Regions from separate parts of the Homo sapiens genome. Here region 2 is linked to region 1. Evidence: fine-mapped expression QTL. A gene starts in region 1. The other region holds a variant in brackets. All regions are shown on one strand. Distances are from middle to middle. Region 1 holds the start of ZNF20 (zinc finger protein 20). Region 2 overlaps ZNF844 (zinc finger protein 844).

What was found. PIP is the estimated chance that this variant, and not a neighbour inherited with it, causes the effect.
Region 2: its variant is the best candidate, but not a certain one, in a credible set for the expression of ZNF20 in cerebellum (GTEx, PIP 0.51).

What each region holds. Positions count from the first base shown.
Region 1 is chr19:12,134,397-12,146,514 of GRCh38, forward strand. It overlaps ZNF20 (zinc finger protein 20), which reads right to left and starts at 5,954. Exons shown (of 4, transcript NM_021143.4): 1 at 5,784-5,954; 2 at 1,373-1,508; 3 at 1,104-1,164. The coding sequence starts at 5,786. It overlaps ZNF625 (zinc finger protein 625), which reads right to left. Exons shown (of 4, transcript NM_145233.4): 4 at 10,494-11,828. The coding sequence ends at 10,901. It overlaps ZNF625-ZNF20 (ZNF625-ZNF20 readthrough (NMD candidate)), which reads right to left. Exons shown (of 8, transcript NR_037802.1): 4 at 8,245-8,319; 5 at 5,784-5,929; 6 at 1,373-1,508; 7 at 1,104-1,164. It also overlaps the pseudogene RPL17P47. RefSeq lists silencers at 3,723-3,825, 5,531-5,740.
Region 2 is chr19:12,072,237-12,084,354 of GRCh38, forward strand. ZNF844 (zinc finger protein 844) reads left to right here. Exons shown (of 4, transcript NM_001136501.3): 2 at 1,795-1,921; 3 at 2,125-2,185; 4 at 3,076-9,329. The coding sequence ends at 4,885. Among named protein-coding and RNA genes, the nearest start is that of ZNF844, 14 kb to the left of the region's middle. The variant C/T (reference allele first, on the strand shown) is at 6,328.

The DNA.
Region 1 (12,118 bases):
CCATGGGAGGTTGAGGCGGGCAGATGGCTTGAGGCCAGGAGTTTGAGATCAGCCTGGCCAACATGGCGAAACCCTGTCTCTACTAAAAATACAAAAATTGGCTAGGTGTGACGGCGTGCGCTTGTAATCCCAACTACTTGGGATGCTAAGGCACGAGAATACCTCGAACCCAAGCAGTGGCAGTTGCAGTGAGCTAAAACCACACCACTCCACTCCCGCCTGGGTGACACAGCGAGACTCTTGTCTCAAAAAAGAAGAAAAAAACATGATTTATATCATTAACAACTATTGCACTTGCATTGTTAACACTGCCCGGCAAAGTGTCAGCTTTCTGCTCTGTCTGAATCATTTGAATATTAATGGACTATATGCTCTACAAGATGGTCTGGGTATATATATTTTTTTAAAATTAGTATTTCTATGGGGCTTTGTAATCCTATTTTCAAGTAAACTATTTTACAAATACTAAACATGTGCGTCTTTTTTTTTGAGTTGGGGTCTCAACTCACCCTGTTGTCCAAATTGGAGTGTAGTGGTACCAACATGGCTCACTGCAGCCTCAAACTCCTGGCCTCCAGCAATCCTTTGGTCTGAAAGCCCCAAAGGACTGGCATTTGGGGGTATGCGCAACAGTGCCCAGCCCAGCGTATGTTACATTTAAACATATGTTTTTAGGAAAACTTTCTATGAATACATAAATTTGATACTGGGCTTATTTCTTTTGCTTCTTTTTAACATTTTCTCACTTTTTTTTTTTTTTTGAGACGGAGTCTCGCTCTGTCACCCAGGCTGGAGTGCAGTGGTGCGATCTCGGCTCACTGCAAGCTCTGCCTCCCAGATTCAAGCAATTCTCCTGCCTCAGCCTCCCAAGTAGCTGGGACTACAGGCATGTGCCACCACGCCCAGCTAATTTTTTTGTATTTTTAGTAGAGACAGGGTTTCACCATATTGGCCGGGCTGGTCTCGAACTCCTGACCTTGGGATTCACCCACCTCGACCTCCCAAAGTGCTGGGATTACAGGCGTGAGCCACTGTACCCGGCCTATTTTCTCACATTTTAAGATTTTCTAGAGGCATTGCCTTGTCTTGCGAGAGAAAATTACCTTAGATTTCTCCTGGGATTTTTGTACTCATCTTCAATGTTCTGAACTTTCCATGTTTTTCCTAAAACACAGACCCGGAGAAAACACAGATCCAGAATTAGTATGAATTTATTTAAAAATCATTAGATTCTGTATTCATGGTACATGGTAGCCATGCCTGATTTATTCATCAAAGTATTTTTTGTCCATGTTCCAAATCAATGAACAGCATTGATGAGCTAGAAGCATTTGTTCTCTAATTCACTGGGAAGTAATATTGTCATTCTTACCTACAGAGGTCAGGTTCTTGAAGGTTTCCTGCATCACATCCCTGTAGAGATTCTTCTGGGAAGGATCCAGCAAAGCCCACTCCTCCTGGGTGAAGCTGACAGCCACATCCTCAAAGGCCACTGAATCCTGAAACATCTCACATATATAAAAGAGGACAGGTAAGACTAACAGCCCTGGAGGCCTATACTTTATTCCTAAGAAGTTCTCATGATACTGTGGACTCCAAACATTTATCCCATGACTTGGTCATCACACCTCTTACTTTCTGTCTATACTCACGTCCTCCCACAAACCAACCCTTTTTTTGTTAAGAGAGAGGGTCTTTGGCCAGTCGCGGTGGCTCACGCCTGTAATCCCAGCACTTTGGGAGGCTGAGGCAGGCAGATCACTTGAGGTCAGGAGTTTGAGACCAGCCTGGCCAACATGGAGAAACCCGTCCCTACTAAAAATATAAAAATCAGCCAGGCGTGGTGGTGGGTGCCTGTAGTCCCAGCTACTCGGGAGGCTGAGGTAGGAGAATTACTTGAACCCAGGAGGTAGAGGTTACAGTGGGCCGAGATCGCGTCACTGCACTCCGGCCTGGGCGACAAAGCAATACTCCATCTCAAAAAAATAATAATAAAATAAATAGGCCAGGCGCAGTGGCTCATGCCTATAATCCCAGCACTTTGGGAGGCCAAGGTGGGCGGATCACCTGAGGTCGGGAGTTCGAAACCAGCCTGACCAACATGGAGAAACCCTGTCTCTATTAAAAAAAAAAATACACAATTAGCTGGGCATGTTGGCACATGCCTGTAATCCCAGCTACTTGGGAGGCTGAGGCAGGAGAATCACTTGAACCCGGGAGGCAGAGATTGCGGTGAGCTGAGATTGCACCATTGCACTCCAGCCTGGGCAACAAGAGTGAAACTCCGTCTCGAAAAAATAAAATAAAATAAAATAAATAAAATCTATACTAATCAAGAGAAAATGGTATTAACAGATGGAAAGATAGACTAATGGAAAACAGCAGATTCTGAAAATAGTGAAACCACGACAAAGCAGGTATCACCAGCCAATTATGCAAGTGGTCCTCACTTACCAGAAGGAACAGGGACAGATGGTTACCTACAGGAGAACAAACAATCTTTGAAGCCCATCATCTCCATATGAATTAATTCTAGAGTTGCCTGTTACCGTGACTTCTTATGTTACCTTACCATGCATTTTCATTATGGGTTTCACTTTCTTATAACAGAAGAAACCCGTACTCAAGCCGTGTGTAGTGGCTCATGCCTGTAATCCCAGCACTTTGGGAGGCCAAGGCAGGCCAATCACTTCAGGTGAGGAGTTCAAGACCAGTCTGGCCAACATGGTGAAACTCCCTCTCTACTAAAAAACACAAAAATTAGCCGGGTGTGTGCGTGCCTGTAATCCCAGCTACTCGGGAGGCTGAGGCAGGAGAATCGCTTGAACTCGGGAAGCGGCGGTTGCAGTGAGCTGAGAGAGCGCCACTTCACTCCAGCCTGGGCGACAGAAAGAGACTGTCTCAGAAAAAAAAAAAAAAAAGAAGAAGAAGAAAGCTGCACTTGACCTCAACAGTTTCCAGTTATCCACCTCCTCCCAGTTCCTGCATGTGCTCAACCCACATATGTGACTTACACAGCTGCCTCCTGGTGACGACCTCACTGTGGAAAAGCTAGACAGACCAACTTGACTTGCCCCACTGACCCTTATACCCACGTGGATGGCACAGACCACCTGTTAATCACAGCCTGACTTCACAGAACTAGCACCTGCTTGCTCCAAATCTATCAGAAACAACTCCCTAAGAGAAACCTCCTTGGGCATTGCCCTGGACCCCAAGAAAAACTCTGGCCCAAAAGTCCCTGTCTGTCTTTCTCCCCACCTGCTGGTTGAATGTGCATCCTGGATGTTCCCCCCACTCTGTGTTGCCCTGCAAGGTGTGCTGCCCTCATCTGTCTGGGATGTGATAATGCACTGTTATGTCATGGCTTTATGGCTTTGTTGAGATGACTCTGCTGTGGCTCACTTCACCTACACCTTTCCCTTAATAGCAACATCCAACTGGCTGACCAGCTATGTGTCTCCAAATAATGGAAGCTGGGACTGGGGGAGAAAAACTGAGCATCCCAAGGGGTTGGCTATCTAGATGAAGAGTGTACCAGGAGTCTCCTCCCATTTGGGAAATTCAGTTGCTCCTTTGGGAGATCCCACACCCTGCCTCAGGCTATCCTCTGGGAGGACTGACACAGGGGCTGATATTCAGTAGGCCAGGAGAGATGGGAGCTGTGGGCATTTTGGTTCAGCCCCAGGCGGTTCTGAAACCCAGGACCAGGAAAAGATAGATTGGGACTCCTGAAGACACATCACCCTGTAAAGTTTTCAAAAAGGAAACAGGCCAGGCACGGTGGCTCACGCCTGTAAAATTCCAGCACTTTGGGAGGCTGAGGCAGGCAGATCATTTGAGCTCAGGAGTTCGAGACCAGCCTGACCAACATGGTGAAACCCCATCTCTACTTAAAATACATGGGGTATGGTGGCGCATACCTGTAAACCCAGCTACTCGGGAGACTGAGGGCAGGAGAATCACCTGAACCTGGGAGGCGGAGGTTGCAGTGAGCCAAGACCACGCCACTTCAATTCAGCCTGGGTTACAAAGAGAGACTTTCTCTCAAAAAAAAAAAAAAAAAAGGAAACAACCCAAAGACATTCTGAGATGGTGTCTGTGCCTTACGAAGATAAGAGGAGAGGAACAGAGGTTTTTCACTGGAGTATCAAGTGGTTATTCTCTATTCTATGTGAAATGTTCAGAAACAGAACACAAATATTTTAAAAAAAGTTATCCATGACCTTGTGAAAAGATGATAAACCACTAAAATACTGCATCTATGTGAAAGAAAGGATGAAGAAATATACTCTACAATAAAGAAAGTTGATACAGGAGGCTGAGGCAGGAGAATCACTTGAACCCGGGAGGCAGAGGTTGCAATGAGCCAAGATCATGCCATTGCATTCCAGCCTGGGCAACAAGAGCGAAACTCCGTCTCAAAAAAAAAAGAAAGTTGATAATACTGTGAGTTGGAGAAGGGGAGTTAATGTTTGGAGATGCGGAAAAGTAATTGAAAATTTAAGATGTTACTGCAAACTGCTGAAGAGTTAGGGCGGGGTAGCAGGGTGGAGGATTTGAGACCCATACATTAGGAAAATGCAGGAGGAAGCCAGTCCCTATAGACAGTGTGAAAAAATTTAAAGCAGCAGCAATTAGACTGAAGTGTGTTTAGTGCTATAAGAAACTACCTAAGGACACCAAAATCAAACTCAAATTGAGGCAGGAAAATAGGGTCTGGACGCAGGGAACATAAGGCCTATTCAAACTTCAGCTATGAAAGGAAATACCTACTCCATAGGGCGTAAGCCAAGTAAATGATTTTATAACCTTACTTCATCCTCTCCTTTTACATAGAGTATACCCCAAGTAACCAATGGAATCCTCCAGGGGGTATTTAAACTCCCAAAAATTCTGTAACGGGGCCTTTGAGCCCCTGTGCTCAGCCCCGCTTGCACACTGTGGAGTGTTAAATCCCTTCATTCCTTCCTTGCTTTGTGCGTTTTGTCCAATTCTTTGTTCAAGACGCCAAGAACCTGGACCCCCTCCACCGTTAACAAAATGCAATTCTTCTTAAAACTTTCTGGTACCAAAACCACAAATCATGACTGGGCGTTTCTCACTCATGAATCGCTGTTTGCTCAAACTCTTTAAATTTTTTTTTTTTTTTGAGATGGAATCTCGCTCTGTCCCCTAGGTTGGAGTGCAGTGGCGTGATCTCGGCTCACTGCAACCTTCGTCTCCTGGGGTCATGCGATTCTCCTGCTTCAGCCTCCTGAGTAGCGGGGACTACAGGCGCATGCCACCATGCCCGGCTAATTTTTTGTATTTTTAGTAGAGACGGGGTTTCACTGTGTTAGCCTGGATGGTCTCGATCTCCTGACTTCGTGATCCGCAAGCCTCGGCCTCCCAAAGTGCTGGGATTACAAGCATGGTCCACCGCGCCCGGCCCAAACTCTTTAACAGAAAAAAAAATCCGCAGGATTCCCCCATGACCCTCCCGTGGTCCCCGCAAAATCTGAAGAGACGCGGGGCTGCAGGCGCGGAGCTGCCCAGAGAGGGCTCCAGGGTCGGGGCCCACAGTCGCCCGCGCAGGAACAGAACAGGAGGACGCCCGGGGTCCCGGCTGCCGGCCCAGCCGCACCCTGCGGCCGAGGGGACGCAGGGACGAGCTGAGACAGAGGGATTCGGGTCCCAGATCCAGGAGGCGCGGCGAGGAGGCCCAGATCCCACCACAGCCGCTTCCGGCCGGTTCCACCCAGCCCCTCCCCCGTCTGGGGACTCCGGCCCCATACACTCACCATTTCCCGGCTTCTGGGTGTCCCGGTGTCCTCTCTAGGGCTCCCGTGAATAGTGCGGGTCACGGTGCAGGCGGCAGAGCGACAGAAGTTGTGGCAGAGGGACCCGGGGCCTCTCGGAGTAGGAAATCTGGTATCCCGACAACAACCTGCATAGCAACAAAAGTAGAAGCTGGAATGGGCCTCCTCCTTCCGGACGGACCGTTGGCCGGGCTCCGCCCCGGCGCTTCTGATTGGACAAGGTACAAGGCCCCGCCCCCTCAGAACTGAGTGACGGCAGAAGCCCTGGGTAACGAGCCCTGCAAAGCCGGACTGATCGGTTCTAGCCACAGCTTCTCTCTAAGGGACAACTCCTTCCCTGAGCCCTGGTCATTGGATATTTTCTTTTCAGCCAAATTTGCTCCTGATTTTTACACAGGGCACTATCTTCTTCCTCATTCAATGGGCTGTCAGTGCTTCTTCGTCCTGCACAGGGTTGTAAGTGTGTGCAGGGAATTCCAGACTGAGTGTCCAATGGAGCGATGTGCTGACCTCAGAGCAGGAAGGGGAGCCCAGATCAGGCCAGGCACGACTGCACCAAGAAGGAGAGGCAGTTGTCCTTCAGGGGCCCGGAATTAGGGATGAGACATGGCCAAGGCTTTCACACATCTCACCCCACCTCACAGTGTGGAAACTCTCCCTCCTTCCAGACCTTCATCTTCATCGGCAGAAAACTCTCACTTGGTGATTTTAAGCTTCTGACCTAAATAAACTGTCAACTGCATAAGCCCCTTCTCCAGGAGAGGTCCCAAACAGTTATTTCCCTGAACTTGATCTTTACGGATTTTCTTCAGATATGCAAATTACAGTCTGACCCCAGGGACTCTATGCATGTCAAACCCAAAACACTGCTCCCGAAAACCGCCCCAGATTCCAGATGTACAGCCGCAGAAAGGACAGAACTCCTGAAGTGCACCTGCACGTGGGTCTCCTGCTTTCCAGGGCGCTGCAGCATGTCAGAACCCACACTCTTTCTGGATCTGCTCTGAGCAGCTGCAAGCCACCTGCAGGGGAGGGCGGCTGCCCAGGAAGCACCCAGAACTCCACTTCACTCCTTGGCAGGATCCATACTAGCCTCAGCGTCCCGTCCCTGGCGTCGGTCTCTGCTGCCCCCTGCAGGTTATTCACCTGCTTCTCACATCATTCATCAGTTTCCATGAGACAAACATCCTCAATCCCACTGCGAGAATAACACACGAGCAAAGCTCTCCTCCAGTGTGTATGTATAAAGTCGAGGAGGAAGTGTCCAAGATTATTTAACTGCATGAAAGTGAGGCAGTAGTGGCTGGGCGCTGTGGCTCAAGCCTGTAATCCCAGCACTTTGGGAGGGCGAGGTGGCTGGATCACCTGAGATCAGGAGTTGGAGACCAGCGTGACCAACATGGTGAAATCCCGTCTCTACTAAAAATACAAAAATTAGCCGGGTGTGGTAGAGCCCACCTGTAATCCCAGCTACTCGGGAGACTGAGGCAGAAGAATCGTTTGTATCAAAGAGGCTGAGGTTGCAGAGAGCCGAGATTGCACCACTGCACTACAGCCTGGGCAATAGAGCGAGACTCTGTCTCAAAACAAAACAAAAAAACACACAAATGTTTAGTCATGTTACTTATTTCTGGTTTCCAGCCTGACTTTATAACATTCCTGACTCTGGGACTCTCCAGCTCTCCAGAATTATGCTTTGAAGAAAAAACAAGATAGAGCACAGGGCCCACATGTCTCTTATAAACTGTGAACCAAAATATTACATAGCAGCCATCTGTCAGAACTGCTTCCAGGCTATTGTCCTCAGTCACAATCCTAAATCAAACTCACTTTCTTTAACAAATTTAATTTTTTTTCTTCAGTCCACATGAGTAATCTAAAAGAAACACATAGACAGAAGAATCTCTTTATTATCATCTTTCTACCAAGTCAACATCAAGCATTAAAAAAATGTAAAACAAAGTGAAAACCATCCTTCTCTGATTCATCGTAGACCCAGAATCTGCCAGTCACCAACACCTATCTTCATTTTCTCTATTACGGCCAACTTTTATCTAAGAGATATCATAGGGGCATATTTAATAGAGTTTGTCATTTTGTGTTTTATGAATTTTAGAGGTTTTTTTGTTTTGTTTTGTTTTGAACTTTTATTTGCATTTTCTTTTGGCTGAATTTGTTTGTCTCTTAAGTTTATGTTTCTTCTGGGGTATCTTTTTCTTCCGTGCATCCTCCTTTTCTGCTTTTGGAACAAGGTGTTTCTTTTCACTAAGCATCATCTGGATGTGGCAGGGGAGTTTGTGGATGGGTTCATCTGCCCATGAGTTCTGTAAGTCAGGTGGTACATTATGGGTGCCTTTTCCCTGGATGTGCTCAATAACCAGGGAATCTACATCTATACCCTTAAGTTCAGCATAACTCTGCACTTGTAAGCAAATTTCAGTACCTTTTCGGGGCCACTGATGGTGAGTCCAGCCCCAATGTCTGTCTTGCGTACAGCGACCAACTCCACTTTCTAAGACTGAAATGGTACACATAATTTCTGTAAAAGAAAATATTTCAGATACTTGGTGGCTTTTCATATAGGCATACCTGTGATGGCCTGAGCACCTTCACAGTTTACAGTGAACATGAGGGTTTCATCCTTCTAACATGCACGACTTCGTGGGATTTTCTGGGTCATAGTGAATAATGTTCATAGATCAACTCAGGCCACACAAGAGGACAGGTTTTCTTTGGTCTTTAAAAGGAACTGATTAAAGAAAAAAAAAAAAAAAAGGTGGAAGCCAGGCACAGCAGCTGGTACCTGTAGTGACAGCTACTTGGCAGGCTGAGGTAGAAGGATTGTGAGCCCAGGAATATGAAGCTCTCATGCACTAAGATCACACTTGTGAATATCACTGCACTCCAGCCGGGTCCAAACAGCAAGACCAACTCTCTAAAAAAAAATTACATAATAAAATAATTTAAAAAAAAGTTTGTGGTTAGAAAAAAGTTTTTATTTAAGACATTCATTAAAGAAAAAAGTACTTTGAGAAGAGATTAGGGCCAGGCGTGGTGCCTATAATCCCAGCACTTTGGGAGCCCAAGGTGGCAGATCATGAGGTCAAGAGATTGAGACCATCCTGGCCAACATGGTGAAACCCCATCTCTACTAAAAATACAAAAATTAGCTGGGCGTGGTGGCGCATGCCTGTAGTCCCAGCTACTCAGGAGGCTGAGGCAGGAGAATCTCTTGAACCTGGGAGGCGGAGGTTGCAGTGAGCCAAGATTGCACCACTGCACTCCAGCCTGGCCACAGAACAAGACTCTGTCTCAAAAAAAAAAAAAGATATTAGGCCTGGCGCAGTAGCTCACACCTGTAAGCCCAGCATTTTGGGAGGCTGAGGCAGGTGGGTCACTTGAGGTCAGGAGTTCAAGACCAGCTTGGCCAACATGGAGAAACCCGTCTCTACTAAAAATACAAAAATGGCCGGGCGCAGTGGCTAACGCCTGTAATCCCAGCACTTTGGGAGGCCAAGGCAGGTGGATCACCTGAGGTCAGAAGTTCGAGACCAGCCTGGTCAACATGGTGAAACCCTGTCTCTACTAAAAATACAAAAATTAGCTGGGTGTGGGGGCACACGCCTATAGTCCCAGCTACTCAGGAGGCTGAGAAAGGAGAATCGCTTGAACCTGGGAGTTGGAGGCTGCAGTGAGCCGACAGCACACCACTGCACTCCAACCTGGAGCAAGACTCTGTATCAAAAAAAAAAAAAAAAAAAATTTGAAGGCTGGAAAAAGATTAGAAGGCCGGGTGCAGTGGCTCACACCTGTAATCCCAGCACTTTGGGAGACACTGGTGTGGGTCACTTGAGGTCAGGAGTTTAAGACCAGTCTGACCAACATGGTGAAATCCTGTCTCTACTAAAAATATAAAAAATTAGCCTAGCGTGGTGGTGGGTGCCCGTAATCCCAGCTACCCGGGAAGCCAGGAGGTGGAAGTTGCACTGAGCCGAGCTCACACCAACACACTCCAGCCTGGGCAACAGAGTGAGACTCTGTCTCAAAAAAAAAAAAAAAAAAAAAAAAAAAAAAAAAAAAGAGTTTAGAGGCTGGGCATGGTGGCTCATGCCTGTAAAGCCAGCTACTCGGGAGACTGAGGCAGAAGAATCGCTTGAACCCAGGAGGCAGAGGTTGCAGTGGGCTGAGAATGTGCAACTGCACTCCAGCCTGGGAGACAGAGCCCGACTCTGTCTCAAAAAAAAAAAAAAAGAAAACTCGTGAGAACGAATGGCATAAAATACGTAGTGTACCCGATAGCCAGCCATTTATTATAGGATATTTTTGAATAGGAACTTTAGCCTTTTGTTTTGATAAAGCTTTCTGAGGCAGTGAGTCTGACAATGGCACTTCCGTTATCCCTTTAGTGAGTTTCTTAAAATGAGGGCTTGCCACTTAGGTATTGGGCTTTCAATAGGAGGGAAAAGATTTTTCTGACCTTCCTGTATATATATACCTGCCACTTTGCTGGGCTAACCTTATTATTATTATTATTATTTTGAGACGGAGTCTCACTCTGTCACCCAGGCTGGAGTGCAGTGGCGCAATCTTAGCTCACTGCAACCTCCACCTCCTGTATTCAAGCAATTCTCCTGCCTCAGCCTCCTGAGTAGCTGGGACTACAGGCGCCACCACACCTGGCTAATTTTTGTATTTTTTAGTAGAGATGGGGTTTCACCATATTGACCAGGCTGGTCTCGAACTACTGACCTCGTGGTCCGCCTGCCTCGGCCTCCCAAAGTGCTGGGATTATAGGCATGAGCCACTGCACCCGGCCAAACCTCGTATTTTTTTTATGACAGAACTGTCTTAAGGTCTTACTGGAGGTGTGTCTCTCTTAAGAGTTATTTCCAACTCTGTGTCCTAGGTATCTGAGTGAGGCCCCAGCTAAACTACTCCCAAAAATTTTTGCTCCTGGGCTACTGGCATTTATTTCTGAATGCTGTCAAATGACAGTGACTGCAGAAGCTTCAGAATAATTTTGCGATGGTTCCCATGATTTGAGGGAAACACATTTTTACCATGATTGGATTCGGTGGCTTCTAGGAATCTTATGTGAATTAAGCAATCTTCTCGCCTTGGCCTTTCGAAGTGTTGGAGCTACAGGGTTTTTCTCCAGTGTGAGTCCTTTCATGGATTTTAACGCTCGAGGCACATCCAAAGGCTTTACCACATTGTTTACATTCATAGGGTTTCTCTCCAGTGTGAGTCCTTCCATGTGTTCGAAGGTGCGAGGCAGATCTGAAGGCTTTCCCACATTGCTTACATTCATAGGGCTTCTCTCCAGTGTGAGTTCTTTCATGATATCGAACGGAATTGAAAGAAACAAAGGCTTTCCCACACTGTTTACATTCATACGGCTTCTCCCCAGTGTGAGTTATTTTATGTGCATGGAGGCATGTGGAACTATGGAATGCTTTCCCACACTCACTGCATTCATAAGGCTTCTCTCCAGTGTGAGTTCTTTCATGTATTCGAAGGCTACCAGAATGACTAAAGGCTTTACCACACTGTTTACATTCATATGGTTTCTCTCCAGTGTGAGTTCGTTTGTGGATAAGATACAAACTGAGACACATCAAGGCTTTCCCACAAAAGTTACATTTGTAGGGTCCATCTCCACTGTGCATTATCCTGTGTCTTCGAATGCTTGAACGGGAAATAAAGCTTTTTCCACATTCCTCACAATCATAAGGTTTCCCCCCAGTGTGAGCCCATTCATGTGTTCGAAAGTAGGGGAGATCACTGAAGGCTTTCTTACAGTATGTACATTTATATGGCTTCTGTCCATATTCCTGATACTCATATGGCTTGTGTCCAGTGTCAGCTCTGTGGTGCCTATTAAGGGATGCATGACCCACGCTGACTTCTCCACATGATTTTACTCGGGGAGTTTTCTTCTTCAGCATGTCATCTGGAACCTGGGTCAAAATTTCTCCATGCTGATGATCTTTCTTACTTTCTAAGAGTCTCTCTCCCATAAGACCTCTGTGAACAATGAGAAGTATATCATAATGGGTTCCTTTATCACTGATTTGATATTCATTAACAAGTCATTGCACTTGTATTTCTAACACTGTACAGCAATGTGTAGGCTTTCTGCCCTGTCTGAACATGAACAGACCACACATGCTCTACAAGATGGCCCAGCTATACCTGTTATCAAGAAAGATAATATTGATATAGGGCTTCTTAGTACTTTTTAAACATTTTTTGAGATAGGGTCTCACTCTGTCATCCAGGCTGGAGTGCGGTGGTGAGATCTCAGCTCACTGCAA
Region 2 (12,118 bases), 62 kb before region 1:
AAGACTAAATACTATCCCATTGTAAGTACATGCATACCACGTTTTCTTTATCCATTTAGCCATCAGTGGACATTTGGATTGATCCATCTCTTGGCTATTGTGAACAGTGGTTTTCAAATATTTCTTCAAAGATCCAACTTTCAATTTATATGAATTGAATATAAATAGACCCAGAAATGGGTTGCTGGAAGAAAATTTTTTTTTTTTTTGCTAGTTTTTCAGGCACCACCATACTGTTTTCCATAAAGATTGAGCCATTTTGCAATCCTTTGGTCAGAGCACATGGGTTCCAATTTCTCAACGTTTTTTCCAAACTTTATATTTGAGGTGGTTTGATTTTTCTTTTTTCTTTTTCTTTTTTTTTGAGATAAAGTCTCAGTGTTGTTGCCCAGGCTGAAGTGCAATGGCGCGATCTACGCTCACTGCAACCTCCGCCTCCCAGCTTCAAGCAATTCTCTGGCCCCAGCCTCCTGAGTAGCTAGGATTACAGGCACCCACCACCATGCCTGGCTAATTTTTTGTATTTTTAGTAGAGACAGGGTTTCACCATGTTGACCAGGCTGGTCTTGAGCTCCTGACCTCAGGTGATCCACCCACCTCGGCCTCCCAAAGTGCTGGGATTACAGGCATGAGCCACCGCGCCTGGCCTTGATTTTTCTTTTCTTTTTAGTTGAATGTAAGAATTCATTATATTTTCTGAATATTGAGACTTTTCCAGATATATGACTTTCCAATATTTGCTCCAGCATCATGGGGTGCCTTTTCCATCTGTTTATGGTGTCCCCTCATAGACAGAACTTTTAAATTTTGATAAATATTTGCCTTTTTGTTAAGAGTGGGTGCACTGGAGTTTTTATCCCTGAACTTTGTCTCCATTCAGCCTTCAGCATTTCATCAATTACAATTTAAGTTTTCCTACCACAGTCTGCTTTTTTTTTTTGAGACAGAGTTTCGCTTTTGTTGCCCAGGCTGGAGTGCAATGGTGCGATCTCAGCTCACCGCAACCTCCGCCTGCCAGGTTAAAGCAATTCTCCTGCCTCAGCCTCCCGAGTACCTGGGATTACAGGCATACACCACCACGCCCAGCTAATTTTGTATTTTTAGTAGAGACAGGGTTTCTCCATGTTGAGGCTGGTCTCGAACTCCTGATCTCAAGCGATCCGCACGCCTCAGCCTTCCAAAGTCCTGGGATTACAGGTGTGAGCCACCGCGCCCGGCCCACAGTACTGTTTTTCACAAAATTTCTATTCATGAGTTTTTTATTTAGATAGTTCTGCCTCTCTTATCAGTTGGGTTGGTTGAACCCCTTGCAAAATCCAGTTTTTTTTTTTTGCTTTTGTTGTCTGCTGCTTCAATCAGAATAAAATCCCCCTTCCAGGTAATCTTCAATGGTTAAACTTTGTGAACAGGCATTTTCAAGGATATATAGCCTCAGGACTGCTAATGTTAACATTTTCTGCAGGTGAATTTAGAGGACTGTGTTATGACAGGTGCTATAGACCCATGCTACAAACAGACATTAAGAGCAGCCCAGGCAGCGCACCTTTCTCCCTGGATTCCATGAAAAGACACATTTTTCTATTCTGCTGTTCGTTTATTGCTTAGTTCTGTTCCAGCATCAGAATTGCTTTAGAGAAGAAAGTAAGTGTAGACAGAGAGTAATGGGTCAGATGACCAAGAAATAGAATAAATGTTTGGAGTCCACAGCATCATGGGAACTTCTTAGGAAGAGGGTATAGACCCCCAGTGCTGTCAGTCTCACCCATCCTCCTCTATACATGTGGGATGTTTCAGGACTTGGTGGCTTTCGAGGATGTGGCTGTGAACTTCACCCAGGAGGAGTGGTCTTTGCTGGATCCTTCCCAGAAGAATCTCTACAGAGAAGTGATGCAGGAAACCTTGAGGAATCTGGCCTCCATAGGTAAGAATGACAGTATTACGTCCCCCAGTGAATGAGACAAGTGTTTCTAGCTCATTAATGCTATTCCTTGATTTGGAATATGGACAGGCAATACTTTGATGAATAAATGAGGTATGGCTCTAATGTCCCGTGAACATAGAATCTAATCATTTTTTCATAATTTTATTTTAATTCAGGATTCTTTTTCTGATTCTGTATTTTAGGAGAAAAATGGAAAGACCAGAACATTGAAGATCAGTACAAAAATCCCAGGAATAATCTAAGGTGATTTAAACTCACGAGACAAAGCAATGTCTCTCTAGAAAATCTCAGAATGCGAGAATATGTTAAGAAGAAGCAAATAAAGGAAATATGCCTAGCATTAAATTTATTTACTCTTAAAATATTCACTCTAAAAACCTACATTTAAATGTGATCTAGGCTGGGCACAGTGGCTCACACCTGTAATTTCAACTGTTTGGGAGTTGGAGGTGGGAGGATTGCTAGAGGCCTGGAGTTTGAGAAGAGCCTGAGCAAAATGGCGAGACTTCATCTCAAACAAAGAACTAGCTATACATTGTGGCATATACCTGTAGTCCTAGCTACATCGAAGGCTGAGGCAGGAAGATCACTTGAGTCCAGGAGTTCAAGGGTGCTGTGAACCATGATGATGCCACTGCACTCCAGCCTGGGCTATATGGTGACCCTGACTCAAGAAAATGATATAGAAGTTTAGTATTTGTAAAATAGTCTACATGGAAATATTATGAAGAATTCTCATATGGTGTTTTTCTTTTTTAAACATATGATTTTTAAAAATAATACGTATAGATAGGCCATCTTATAGCCATATGGTCCAGTCACCTTCCAACAATTTAGACAGGGTAGAAAGCCTACACTTTCCTGGATAATGTTGAAAGTGCAAGTTCAGTGGGGAGGGATAGCATTAGGAGATATACCTAATGCTAAATGACGAGTTAATGGGTGCAGCACACCAAATGGGACATGTATACATATGTAACAAACCTGCACGTTGTGCACATGTACCCTAAAACTTAAAGTATATTAATAATAAAATAAAATAAAATAAAATAAAATGCAAGTGTAATCCTTGTTAATAAACATCAAATCACTTATAAACAAACCTTCAATAATGTGTTTCTCATTTTTCACAGAAGTCTTCTGGGAGAGAGAGTTGATGAAAATACAGAAGAAAATCATTGTGGAGAAACTTCTAGCCAGATTCCAGATGACACACTGAACAAAAAAACTTCTCCTGGAGTAAAATCATGTGAAAGCAGTGTGTGTGGAGAAGTCTTCGTGGGTCATTCTTCCCTTAATAGGCACATTAGAGCTGACACTGCACACAAGCCGTCTGAGTATCAGGAATATGGACAGGAGCCATATAAGTGTCAACAACGTAAGAAAGCCTTCAGATGTCACCCCTCCTTTCAAATGCAAGAAAAGGCTCACACTGGAGAAAAACTCTATGATTGTAAAGAATGTGGAAAAACCTTCATATCCCATTCAAGCATTCAAAGACACATGATAATGCACAATGGAGATGGAACTTATAAATGTAAGTTTTGTGGGAAAGCCTGCCCTTGTCTCAGCATATATCTTATACATGAACGAGTTCACACTGGAGAGAAACCATATAAATGTAAACAATGTGGTAAAGCCTTTAGTTATTCAACTTCCCTTCAAATACATGAAAGAACTCACACTGGAGAGAAGCCTTATGAATGTAAGGAATGTGGGAAAGCATTCGGTAGTCCCAATTCCCTTTATGAACATAGAAGAACTCACACTGGAGAGAAGCCATATGAATGCAAACAATGTGGAAAAGCCTTCAGATGGTTCCATTCCTTTCAAATACATGAAAGAACTCACAGTGAGGAGAAGGCTTATGAATGTACCAAATGTGGGAAAGCATTCAAGTGTCCCAGTTATCTTTGTAGACATGAAGTGACCCACTCTGGGAAAAAGCCCTGTGAATGTAAACAATGTGGGAAAGCATTATCTTATCTTAACTTTCAAAGACACATGAAAATGCACACTAGAATGAGACCTTATAAATGTAAGACTGTGGAAAAGCCTTTGATTCTCCCAGTTCGTTTTGAAGACATGAAAGAACTCACACTGGAGAGAAACCTTATGAATGCAAGCACTGTGGTAAAGCCTTCAATCGTTCCAGTTCCTTTCACTATCATGAAAGGACTCACACTGGAGAGAAACCCTATGAATGTAAGCAGTGTAGTAAAGCCTTCATTTCTTCCACTTCCTTTCGATATCATGAAAGGACTCACACTGGAGAGAAACCGTATGAGTGTAAGCAATGTGGGAAAGCCTTCAGATCTGCCTCACACCTTCAAATGCATGGAAGGACTCACACTCAAGAGAAACCCTATGAATGTAAGCAGTGTGGTAAAGCCTTCATTTTTTCCACTTCCTTTCGATATCATGAAAGGACTCACACTGGAGAGAAACCCTATGAGTGTAAGCAATGTGGGAAAGCCTTCACATCTGCCTCACACCTTCAAATGCATGAAAGGACTCACACTGGAAAGCAACTGTATGAATCTAAACAATGTGAAAAAACCTTTGGATCTGTCAGAAACCTTCAAATTCATGAAAAGACACACCCTGGAGAGAAACCCTATAAGGAATATGGAAAAGCATTCAACAATTTCTCTTCCTTTCAAATACATGCAACAATGCACAGAGGACAGAATGCCTATGAATGTAAAGAGTGTGACAAAGCATTCATATCTGCCAAGATCCTTCGAGTACATGCAAGAACACACCCTGGAGAGAAACCCTATGAATGTAAGGAATGCGGAAAAGCGTTCAATTATTTTTCTTCTTTGCGTATACACAAAAGGATGCACACTGGAGAGAAACCATATTAATGTAAGGATTGTGGGAAAGCATTCAGTTTGCCTGGTTCCTTTCGTAGACATAAAAGGGCTCACACTGGAGTGAAACCGTATGAATGCAAGGAATGTGGCAAAGCCTTCACTTCTTCTGGTTCCTTTCAGTGTCATAAAAGGATTCACACTGGAGAGAAACCCTATGAGTGTAAGCAGTGTGGTAAAGCCTTCATTTCTTCCACTGCCATTCGTAGACATGAAAGGACTCACACTGGAGAGAAACCCTATGAGTGTAAGCAATGTGGAAAAGCCTTTATTTCTTTCAGTTCCATTCAGTACCATGAAAGGACTCACACTGGAGAGAAACAGTATGAGTGTAAGCAGTGTGGTAAAGCCTTCATGTCTTCTACTGCATTTCAGTATCATGAAAAGACCCACACCAGAGAGAAACACTATGAATGTAAGCAGTGTGGGAAAGCCTTCATTTCTTCCGGTAGCCTTCGATATCATGAAAGGACTCACACTGGAGAGAAACCCTATGAATGTAAGCAGTGTGGTAAAGCCTTCAGATCTGCCACTCAACTTCAGATGCATAGAAAGATTCACACTGGCGAGAAACCCTATGAATGTAAGCAATGTGGGAAAGCCTACAGATCTGTCTCACAACTTCTGGTGCATGAAAGGACTCACACTGTAGAGCAACCCTATGAATATAAGCAATATGGGAAAGCCTTCAGATTTGCTAAGAACCTTCAAATACAGACAATGAATGTAAACAATTAAATGTTTATAGCAGCTGCATACTAACATGTTATTCTGTATTTTTTTTTTCTTTTTGAGACAGAGTCTCGCTCTGTCACCCAGGCTGGAGTGCAGTGGCGTGATCTCAGCTCACTGCAAGCTCCACCTCCTGGGTTCACGCCATTCTCCTGCCTCAGTCTCCTGAGTAGCTGGGACTACAGGTGCCTGCCACCACACCCGGCTGATTTTTTGTATTTTTTAGTAGAGACGGAGTTTCATCGTGTTAGCCAGGATGGTCTCAATCTCCTGACCTCGTGATCTGCCCGCCTCAGTCTCCCAAAGTGCTGGGATTACAGGTATGAGCCACCGTGCCCGGCCGTTATTCTCTATTTTTTGTTGTTGTTTGAGATGAGTCTTGTTCTGTTGCCCAGGCTGGAGTGCAGTGGCATGATCTCGCCTCCGGGTTCAAGCAATTCTCCTGCCTCAGGCTCCTGAGGAAAAAGATTCCTAGGATTACAGGTGTGCACCACCACACTTGGCTAATTTTTATATTTTTAGTAGAGATGAGGTCTCACCCTATTGGCCACACTGGTCTTGAACTCCTGACCTGAAGTGATCCACCTGCCTTAGCCTCCCAAAGTGCTGGGATGACAGGCATGAGCCACTGCACCCAGCTGTTATTCTCTATTTAATTAATTGAGAAGCCATAATAAAATATCTCAGTGCCATCATGCATTAGATCAAGTTTATGTTACCACATTATTTTTTGGACATTGTGAGTCAATATTACCAAGTGGACAAAATCCCAGGCAT[C/T]TTTTTCCTCATGTAAATTTTAATTTTCATGCTTATATACTTAGAACATTTATCTTGGTCCTAATTTTTTGTTCATTCATAATACCAAAAGTTATCTCATGTTCTTCAGAGTGACTTTGTGCCATATCCCACAGTGGCATACCTGTCTTCAAAGAGGGTATAATTCACAAAAGGACTTACACTAGAGGAAAACCCTATGAATGTAAGCTGCGTGGGAAAGCATTTTCTGATCTGAGTGGCATTGAAACCCACATGGTATTGCACATGACAGATAGGCCTCTCTCCCCGTTCATTTCTTTTTTTTTGAGACGGAGTCTTGCTCTGTCGCTGAGGCTGAGAACAGTGGTTCCATCTCTGTTCACTGCCACCTCCACCTCCTGGGTTCAAGTGATTCTCCTGCCCCAGCCTCCCAAGTAGCTGGGATTACAGGTGACCGCCACCACGCCCAGCTAATTTTTGTATTTTTAGTAGAGACGGGGCTTCACTATGTTGGCCAGGTTCGTCTCGAACTCCTGACCTCAGGTGATCCACCTGCCTCAGCCTCCCAAAGTGCTGTGCATACAGGCATGAGCCACTGCACCCGGCCTTCTCCCCATTCATTTTCAAAGACATAAAAGGATGCACAATAAAGAGAGACCCTCTGAATGCAAGCAATATGGAAAAGCATTCCATTGTATCAGATCCTTTTGTAGCCATGAAAGAACTCGCTGAAGAGAAACCCTGTAAATGAAGGGAATGTGAAAAGCCTTCATTCCTGAAATGAAGCAATTCATACTATTAATATATGAGAGAAATCCTATTATAAGAAATTGATTGCTGTGCACGGTAGCTTACCTGTAATTCCAGCACTTCCAGAGGCTAAGGCAGGTGGATCACTTGAGGTCAGGAGTTCAATACCAGCCTGGGCAACATAGTGAAACCCTGTCTCTACCAAAAATACAAAAATTAGCCAGGCATGGTGGCGCGTGCCTGTAGTCCCAGCTACTCAGGAGGCTGAGGCAGGAGAATCACTTGAACCCAGGAGCTGGATGTTGCAGTGACCCGAGATTACGCCACTGTACCCCAGCAGAGTGAGACTCCATCTGAAAAAAAAAGCAAGGGGCCGGCACGGTGGTTCACGCCTGTAATCCCAGCACTTTGGGAGACCAAGGCAGGCAGATCACCTGAGGTCAGGAGTTCGAGACCAGCCTGGCTAACATGGCAAAACCCCATCGCTACTAAAAATACAAAAAATTAGATGGGCATGGTGGCACATGCCTGTAATCCCAGCTACATGGGAGACTGAGGCAGGAGAATTGCTTGAACCTGGGAGGCGGAGGTTGCAGTGAGCCAAGATCACAGCATTGCACTTCAGCCTGGGCAACAAGAGTGAAACTCCATCTCAAAAAAAAAAAAAAAAAAAATTGAGGAAGCATTCAGTTGTCCCACTTCCTTTCAAACAGGAAGAGACACTAGAGAGAAACCCTCTGAGATAACTGACTGTTGAATTAAGAAGAGAGGCCTGGCCGGACACAGTGGCTCACGCCTGTAATCCCAGCACTTTGGGAGGCTGAGGTGGGCGGATCACGAGGTCAGGAGATCAAGACCATCCTGGCTGACACGGTGAAACCCCGTCTCTACTAAAAAATACAAAAAAACTAGCTGGGCGTGGTGGTGGGCGCCTGTAGTCCCAGCTACTCGGGAGGCTGAAGCAGGAGAATGGCGTGAATCCAGGAGGCAGAGCTTGCAGTGAACCGAGATCGCGCCACTGCACTCCAGCGGCGACAGAGCAAGACTCCGTCTCAAAAAAAAAAAAAAAAAAAAGAGAAGTCTGACAGGACAATAAAATTTAGAAATGGAGTTGGAGGATGTCATAATACAATTCACCAGTGTCCTATCTTACATGCAATTTCAAAGGCAGACAAGAGGAAGTCATCAGTCACATTTTAGAGGCACCAAACAGGTGCCACATCCATACAGGCTGACTCCCTGCTCCCAGCCCATTTTTTCCTGAATCTTTGGCTTGCCAATCAAGAATGTCCTCAAAATTTGCTCAGAGGTGTGGGCCTTTGGGTAAAGGTGTCTTCAGAAGCTCCACATTAAAGATCCATCAGTGGTTAAGGGCAAATTGAAGAGAAATAAAGACTAAGATATTTTTTTAAAAGACTGAAAGAATAGAACAATGAAAAAGCCCCATCTGTAATACAGTTTTTCTTTTTCTTTTTTTTTGAGACAAGGTCTCTCTCTGTCACCCAGGCTGGAGTAGAGTGGCATTATCCTGGCTCATTGCAATCTGGGCCTCCTGGTTTCAAGTGATTCTGGTGTCTCAGCCACCTGAGTAGTCAGGATTACAGGTGCACACCACCACGCATGGCTAAATTTTTGTATTTTTAGTAGAGATGGGGTTTCACCATGTTGAGCAAGCTGGTCTTAAACTCCTGACCTCAAGTGATCCGTCTGTCTTGGCCTTTCAAAATGCTGGGATTATAGGCGTGATCCACTGTGCCTGGCCTGGTGTTTCTTTAGGTATAATGTCTTTACCAGAGAGCTAATGCAGACTGTCATGGGTGAGATTGTTCTCTGATGTTCAATTCCCCTACTTTGTATATTGAGTCAGTATGAGATGCGATTTGTTTGGCAAGCACCTTTGTTCCTGCTGTTACTGACCCTTATCTTGTAGCCTCACAGCTACTATGCTTTTGTCCAGTCCAACTAGATAGGAGCTTCTTCCTCTGCTGCAGTGACTGGTCTCACCCAGGGCTTTCAGGAAGGTGAGAATAAGCACCTTCCTCCTCCCAGGAAGTTTTGAGTTTCCTGTGTTTCATTTCTGAATGTAATGTCTCCATTTATTTTCAATTATGTTTGATTATATTTGATTAAAAACAATAATTTTTTTGGCAACCAAGATTTCTGTACATGTGTCATAGAAATAGTTGAACTTTTCCACAACTGTATACTGACAAACATTATTCTTTCTTAATTAATTCAGTAGCTATATTAAAATATGTATTAGATCAAGTTCATAATGTTGCCAAGTTATTGGTTGGACATTGTGAGTCAATATTACCATGTGAATAGAATGCCAGGCATGCTTTTTCTCATGTAAAAAAATTTTACTTTTTATACTCACTTATATCCTTAAATTTTTTTGTTGTTTGTTTGTTTGTTTTTTTTGAGACGGAGTCTCACTCTGTCGCCCAGGCTGGAGTGCAGTGGCATGATCTCGGCTCACTGCAAGCTCTGCCTCCCGGGTTCACGCCATTCTCCTGCCTCAGCCTCCCAAGTAGCTGGGACTACAGTTGCCTGCCACCACGCCCGGCTAATTTTTTTGTATATTTTTTTTAGTAGAGACAGGGTTTCACCGTGTTAGCCAGGAAGGTCTCAATCTCCTGACCTTGTGATCCACCCACCTCGCCCTCCCAAAGTGCTGGGATTACAGGCGTGAGCTACCGCGCCTGGCTATCCTTAAATTTTTTATCTTAGTCCTAACTTTTCTTTTTTTCTTTTTCTTTTTCTTTTTTTTTTTTTTTGAGACGCAGTCTCGCTCTGTCGCGCAGGCTTGAGTGCAGTGGTGCGATCTCCACTCACTGCAACCTCTGCCTCCTGGGTTCAAGCGATTCTCCTGCCTCAGCCTCCCAAGTAGCTGGGGTGACAGGCGCCGGTCACCACACCCGGCTAATTTTTGTATTTTTAGTAGAGATGGGGTTTCACCATGTTGGTCAGGCTGGTTTAGAATTCTTGACCTTGTGACCCACCTGCCTTAGCCTCCCAAAGTGCTGGGATTACATGGGTAAGCCACCACGCCCAGCCTCTTAGTCCTAACTTTTCATTCATTCATTGTACCAAAAGTTAACTCAATGTTCTCAGTGACGTCTTGCCAAAGACCACCAGTACCATACTTGTTGTCAAAGAGGGTGTAATATAGTAATAAATATGATCAAAAGCCATAAATGACAGTGAGATATATGAGAATTACAAATGAGTCACATTACTGAAAAAAATTTGCTCAGTTTGATAATTTGAAATATGTTTTCTTCTATACTATTTTGAGACATGGTTACAGAGTGTCCTTGTTTTGTCTTGATCCGTCATGGTCACTGAAGAGCATTGTCTCACATTGCAGGTGTATGACATGTGTCTTTCCAATGGCATAAGACTTGGCCTTGTGGCCGGGCGTGGTGGCTCATGCCTATAATCCCAGCACTTTGGAAGGCTGAGGCGGGTGGATCACCTGAGGTTGGGAGTTCGAGACCAGTCTGACCAACATGGAAAAACCCCGTCTCTACTGAAAACGCAAAAATTAGTCGGGTATAGTGGCACATGCCTGTAATCCCAGCTACTTGGGAGGCTGAGGCAGAAGAATCACTTGAACCCAAGAGGTGGAGGTTGCAGTGAACTGAGGTCACGCCATTGCACTCCAGACTGGGTAACAAGAGCAAAACACCGTCTCAAAAAGCAAACAAAGAAAAGACTTGGCCTTGTGGTGAGAGGAGGTAGCTCCTGGACTTCTAGACCCATTTTTGCCTTATCTTTTTTTTTTTTTTTTTTGAACTACTGAGCAGCTGGGATTACAGGCACTCGCCACTACACCCAGCTAACTTTTATATTTTTAGTAAAGACAGGGTTTCACTATGTTGGTCAGGCTGGTCTTAGACTCCTGACCTCAGGTAATCCACTCACCTCAGCCTCCCGAAGTGGTGGGATTACAGGCGTGAGCCACCACGCCTGGCCAAAAAATATGCATATTTTAAATATGCATATTTTATTTTTGTATTTTTTCATGAAGGAAGGTCAAATAACAAAACAGGAAAAATCCTTTTTAAGATAAGTGAACTTTAAATTTTCCTCAAAAAAACTTATAATTCACACCTGACCCAACATTTCATCATCCAGTTTTTGTTTTGTTTTGTTTTTTTGAGATGGAGTTTCGCTTTTGTTGCCCAGGCTGGAGTGCAATGCCACGATGTTGGCTCACCACAACCTCCACCTCCCACGTTCAAGCGATTCTCTTGCATCAGCCTCCTGAGTAGCTGGGATAACATGTCTGTACCACCACACCTGGCTAATTTTGTATTTTTAGTAGAGATGAGGTTTCACCATGTTGGTCAGGCTGGTCTCAAATTCCCAACCTCAAGTAATCCGCCCACTTCAGCCTCCCAAAGTGCTGGGATTACAGGCATGAGCCATCGTGCCCAGCCTATCATCCAGTTTGTTTGCAGTATCACAATGTTTTATTCAGAAACATTTACTAAATTTGGGCCAGACACGGTGGTTGTTCAGGCTAGGGTATAATGGTGGGATCATAGCTCACTGCATCCTTAACTCTTGGGCTCAAGTGATTCTCTCGCCTCAGCCTCCAACATATGTGGGACTACAAGCATACACCACCATGCCCAGGTAACTGTTTTGTTTTTTTTTTTAAGATGGAGTCTACACTGGCACAGTCTCTGCTCACTGCAACCTCCACCTTCTGGATTCAAGCGATTCTCCTGCCTCAGCCTCCCAAGTAGCTGGGATTACAGGAAGCTGCCACGCCACCATGCCTGGCTCATTTTTGTATTTTTAGTAGAGATGAGGTTTCACCATGTTGGCCAGGATGGTCTCAAACTCCTAGCTTCAAGTGATCCATCCACCTCGGCCTCCCAAATTACTGGGATTACAGGCGTGAGCCACCATGTCCTGCCAGATTTTAAAAATTTTCTGTGGAGATGTGATCTAACTGTGGTCCCAGGCTGCTCTTTAACTTTTAGCCTCAAGCAGGTCTCCTCCCTCAGCCTCACAGTGCTAGGATTATAGGCTTGAGCCATTTCAA